Regions from separate parts of the Homo sapiens genome. Here region 2 is linked to region 1. The links come from fine-mapping of genetic effects on gene expression. Tissue or cell type: fibroblasts. Region 1 holds a variant in brackets; the other region holds the start of a gene. All regions are shown on one strand. Distances are from middle to middle.

What was found. PIP is the estimated chance that this variant, and not a neighbour inherited with it, causes the effect.
Region 2: PEX7 starts here. The variant in region 1 is fine-mapped to the expression of PEX7 in fibroblasts (GENCORD, PIP 0.95).

The regions. Positions count from the first base shown.
Region 1 is chr6:136,880,505-136,883,263 of GRCh38, forward strand. All of the region lies in intron 8 of PEX7 (peroxisomal biogenesis factor 7), which reads left to right. Among named protein-coding and RNA genes, the nearest start is that of SLC35D3, 40 kb to the right of the region's middle. The variant C/CT (reference allele first, on the strand shown) is at 1,671.
Region 2 is chr6:136,821,514-136,824,142 of GRCh38, forward strand. It overlaps PEX7 (peroxisomal biogenesis factor 7), which reads left to right and starts at 1,079. Exons shown (of 10, transcript NM_000288.4): 1 at 1,079-1,282. The coding sequence starts at 1,153. RefSeq lists enhancers at 650-799, 683-1,415, 1,416-2,148, 1,530-1,689 and a silencer at 980-1,359.

The sequences.
Region 1 (2,759 bases):
TTCACACAGGCTTGCAGCTGGAACAAGGAAGAGAGCTCATAGGGATTCTGTTTTGATTTTTCTTCTTACAGTTAATTTGAAGTTTGGATGTGTGGAAGACCTGAGGTTTGTGTAGTTTTATTTGTTCTCTTTGTTGTTCTGTATTGGTTTTTGTAAGAATACAGTAACAGTTTTGGATTTACATGGCCTCATTGCCTAGACTCTCCTCTCTCCTCACTTCTGAGTCCGTATTAGATATGGCCCAGTCTATATAGCTTTGTTTGTATAAAATGTACTTCTAATAGAATAAATTACAACAATGCTTTGAGATGTATTTCATGCCTTAACTTGGTTTTCTTGATTCATTCAATACAAGCGGGCAGACAGCTGGGAAGAATAATCACATGGAGGCTCCCAGCTCTCAAAAGTGTACTTTAACCAGGCTTTTGTTTGTTTTTTAGTATTCCATATAAAATAATAAGTAGTGATTATAAAGTTTTCAGCCTGGGAACTAACGAATGGCAACACAACAGAAAGGAAGAAACTGGAACTGTGGAGCTAGATCACTGGCTGGAGGTTAAGGCTGTGCATGTAGATTTGGACACCATTTACTCACTGATAATTCAGTCCATAAGAATGAATAAGCCAAAGGGAGATAAGTGTAGAGAAAGAACAAAAATTCCCTCCTTCAGGAGGGAGTTCATGTTGGAAAGCAGGAAGGAGCAGCCCACCAGGAACAGGAGGAAACCTTAGAGCATGCAATAGTCACAGAAGCTGTGGGAGGAGGGGCTTTCAACAAGGTGTGAATGGCCAGTAATGTCAGATCCACCAGATAGGTTAAGCAGTATGAAGAGAGAACTTGGAATCTTCTCTTTTTGTCGCTCATGGATTCAAAAAGATATCCACATATAGGATCTAGTTCTTGGAATTCGAACACCTTTCTGGCATTTGAAGCAAGAAGGCATAAACTGAGATGAGACATTAATCTTTTGGTGATCTCATATTTGGTATTCTTAACAGTTTTAATTGGGACATCTTAAATCCATTTCAGTGCTTTGTTTCTGATTAAAGAGAAAAATCTAATGACTACTGAGACTTTCTTCTCAGAATTGTCATTTTGATCTTAATCCTAGTGACTGACCACTCCCTGTTTTATGTATTTAAGTACCCCTAAACACCCTGTGGGAAAATGCCTTGTTCTCAGGAATGTTTGTTAAGACTGGATGTCAACTACATTTCTGAAAATCTTGGGAGTATCAAACCATGCTCAGAATCATCATAGTTTTTGGCTTTCAGTCTTACTTTTCTCTCCACTGTTAAATGCTGAGTCCTGAGCAAGGACAGGGAGCGGGGGATAGATATTTAGTGCCCCTGGGGAGGGAGGTGGCTTAGGTCATGGTCCTGAGACCAGATCAAAGGTGTTGTAGCTATATTTGTAAGCACTTGGAAAAATTGAGATTTATAGTTCAATAATAGGAGATCTTTAACGTAAGTTAAACAGAAAGTTAAGAAGATATTTGAAATCAATGATCGTGTATAACTTAGAGTCCAGGTTTCTTTTATTAATGTGTAATATGGCAACTAGTGATATCTGTGCTCACAAGCTCACAGGGTGATTACAAGAAATATATGAGAAGACGTTCTTGAAAATACTATGATAATTCTTAATTGCTTTTCCCCCTCTTCTTCTT[C/CT]TTTTTTTTTTTTTTTTTTTTTTGAGACAGTCTTGCTCTGTCACCCAGGCTGCAGTGCAGTTGTGTGATCTTGGCTCATTGTAACCTCCACCTCCAGGGTTCAAGCGATTCTCCCACCTTAGCCTCCTGACTATCTGGGACTACAGGCACACATCACCACACCCAGCTAATCTTTGTATGTTTAGTAGAGACAGGGTTTTACCATGTTGGCCAGGCTGGTCTCGAACTCCTGACCTCAAGTGATCTGCCCACCACAGCCTCCCAAAGTGCTGGGATTATAGGCGTGAGCCCCCGCACCTGGCCCTTTGCCTCTCTTCTAAAGCCATCTTTCCAACCCTATTCCCTGCACATTCAGCAAAAGATCTTACCTTTAAAATAATAATAATAATAATAATTGTGGGACTCAAGCACAAATTATCTTAATTTCTAAGCTGGGCCTGCAGATTTTCTCTAAATCTGTACCTCTTCATTCCTCCTGTTATTTAGATCCCTTAGACATGTGTGCTGTTGATCCCTCGTACTTGTTTTCTTCAGGACTTTACGCCGTGAAGTGACCTGTTCTCCCCCTATATCTCTCTATATCTTTAGTCTCCAACTCTTTAGTGACTTTTTCCTCAGCCTGTAACATTTTCCTTCATCCTGCATTTGCCTTTAACTCCTCTCTTACATCTCTCTTTTTTACTTAGCCAAGCTTTTAGTGTCCGCATAAGCTTCCATTCACCAGGGCCATTTTAAGGTCTTCACTGTCCCAGCGTACTCTGTGTTGGAGGTCTTACCCTGGATCACTAGAACCTATAAAATGGATCTACATCACTGATTAAATAGGGTTAATTATTTTGAAAAGATTTGTGGCTTTTGCTTTTGAAGTGATTTGGATTGAGTAAGTCACTTATGATTGATTATGACTTCTTGGCAATCATTATGCTTGCTAAGGAATTCATGTGAAGTAAAAAAGAAACATCCCTAACCTAGAAATTGTTTCCGAGTGGAATGAAATGTTTCTGAGTGCCAGGTTTATCAATTAGTAATGTTAATTTATTAATTTTAAATTTAATTATTTTAAGTTTAATTTAAATGTTCAGGTCTCAG
Region 2 (2,629 bases), 59 kb before region 1:
GATCTCCATCTTCTTGTCTACCTAAAGAAAACCTACTCATCTGTGTGCAATCACCATAAAGACTTATCTCTCTTCTGCAGCCTTTCCTGCAATTTCCATACCTCTGGCACGGACAATCACCTTTTAAAAATACCCCATATAAATTTATCATAGCCTCTACAGTATTTTGATTACACTTAACTAATTACATGACTTCTCTTTTAGTCTTCTTCTCTAATCTCTTGAGGCCATGGACCATATCCCATTATTTTGAATCCCAAATGCCTAGTACTGTTCTTGGTATATGGTTAAGATGATCATACGACTTGGTTTGTGCCTGTTGACCTGGCTTAATAATTACACCCTCTTTACTCTCAAAAGTATCTTGGTTTGGCAGATAAATTATATTTGGTCATTCTCCACATAGTATATGCCTGGCAATAAATGAATGAATGAGCACCAGCATCTGAGCACTTATTACCATACAATATATACATGTATAGTAATACTTTTTAAAAAAGTTGTATATGATGATGTGCTGCTTTTTTGCTTAGCTTCATTAGAACTGGCCAGCTCCTTTTTCTCACTTGCCAAGCATGGGGAGTTGGTTTGGAGTTGGTGTTTCATCTTTTCCAGTTACAGTGTGAAAGTAGCCCACCAGCCCACGCTCTTATTCCTAAAGACCGCAGTGACTCCACGGACTTAAGTTCTCATTGCTTCCAGTTTCCTTGGGCAACGCAGCACGCAATTTTGGACGCGCTGCGTGGTTTCAGAGTCGGCTGTAACTTTTCTCACTTTATAATCATCAGGAAAAGTTCCTGATGCCAGTCTTCCAAACGCTCAATGAAATAAAAACCAGATAGCACCGCAGAGGAGGCTGAGATGCAACGACAAAAGCTGTCGTAATTATTAATAATACCTAACCCTGGATCACTCCCCTGATAGATCTGTATCTTTGCAGCAGGCGCAATTCAGTTTGGATTCACCCAAAACAAAAATGGTCTCCGTCGGAGTCAACGCCCTTTCCTGTGCGGACCAATCAGAATCTCAAACACAGGGCACGGGGCCCACACTTCCGTCCGGTCTGCCTGGTCTCTCTAACCGCGCCAGTGTGCCTCCGACTCGGAACGGCTTCCGCGGCCGGGGCAGCGAGGGCCGGGGGCGGCGGGCGGGATGAGTGCGGTGTGCGGTGGAGCGGCGCGGATGCTGCGGACGCCGGGACGCCACGGCTACGCCGCCGAGTTCTCCCCGTACCTGCCGGGCCGCCTGGCCTGCGCCACCGCGCAGCACTACGGCATCGCGGGTGAGGCGGCGCCGCGCAGCTGGGGCCGGGGGGCGGAGGCGGAGGCGGGGGCCAGCCGGGCTCCAGTTCCTCGCGCTCGAGGGAAAGCCCCTCTGAGCGTAGACGGTTCCGCGGGTCCACGCCAGGGGGCAGAAGAGGCGCTGGTCGGCGCTTCTCCTTTCTTTGCCGAGTGCGAGGAGTTGGTCTGAAGCAGGAGTCGATCTTCCAGTTGTGTGCAAGTGCATATACGTGTAGCCTAGTAGCCCGTGTCCTTGTTCCTTGAGACCGCGCTGCCTCCGCCACGTGTCACACGCCCAGGCACACGTCCCCGTAGGGAGAGCCGGGGGAGCCTGCGCGGTCCCTTGGATCGGTCCGCTCGGCACAGCAGTACGGGGAAGACGGTCTGAGCCAGAACCGACCCAGGGCTCGCGAGTTGGCCCACAATTCCCAGTCTGCATTCGAGCACTGAGCTGCGACCTGCGGGCTGGCCTTCCTAAGGACGATGCTCCTGAATGGACGCCTGGAGTCCCACGGGTGACACCATGAAATATATCAAGTTCAGTTCTTACCTGTAGTTGTCTAACGAGGAATGCACACATTCGCAAGTAGGTGTTACAGACTCCAGTTAATTGTCTCCCGTCGCGCGCATTGGCTCAGCCTGTGGTTAAAGCTGCTCAGGAGGCTGAGGCGGGAGGATCGCTTGAGCCCGGGATGTTGAGGCTACAATGAGCTGAGATCACATCACTCTGCCCCAGCCCAGTGAGCTGAGATCACATCACTCCACTCCAGCCTGGGTGACAGACTGAGACCCCGTCTTAAAAAGAAAAAAGGCCAAGCGCCGTGCGGTGGCTCACGTCTGTAATCCCAGCACTTTGGGAGGCCGAGGTGGGCGGATCACTTGAGTTCGGGAGTTCCAGACCAGCCTGACCAACATGGAGAAACCCCATCTCTACTGAAAATACAAAATTAGCCGGGCGTGGTGGCGCATGCCTGTAATCCCAGCTACTCGGGAGGCTGAGGTAAGAGAATAGTTTGAACCCAGGAGGCAGAGGTTGCGGTGAGCCGAGATCGTGCCATTGCACTCCAGCCTGGGCAAGAAGAGCAAAACTCCGTCTCAAAAAAAAGAGTCCATCTAGTCCGTGGACTAGATGAAAAGGCGTAGGTTCATTCTCGCTTTTGCCTTAATTCATGTCCTAGCTATTATACGCACTGAAGCGAGATGCAAAAACTCATTTCATAATGTCAGTGGTCTATTGTATTTTTTTGTTTTGTCCTACAGCAGAAAAAAATGTTACTTCTAAAACTCAGAGAAATACTTGATTTATTTTCATTATTAGCTCTTAGTGCTTGCACATTCAGATTTACATG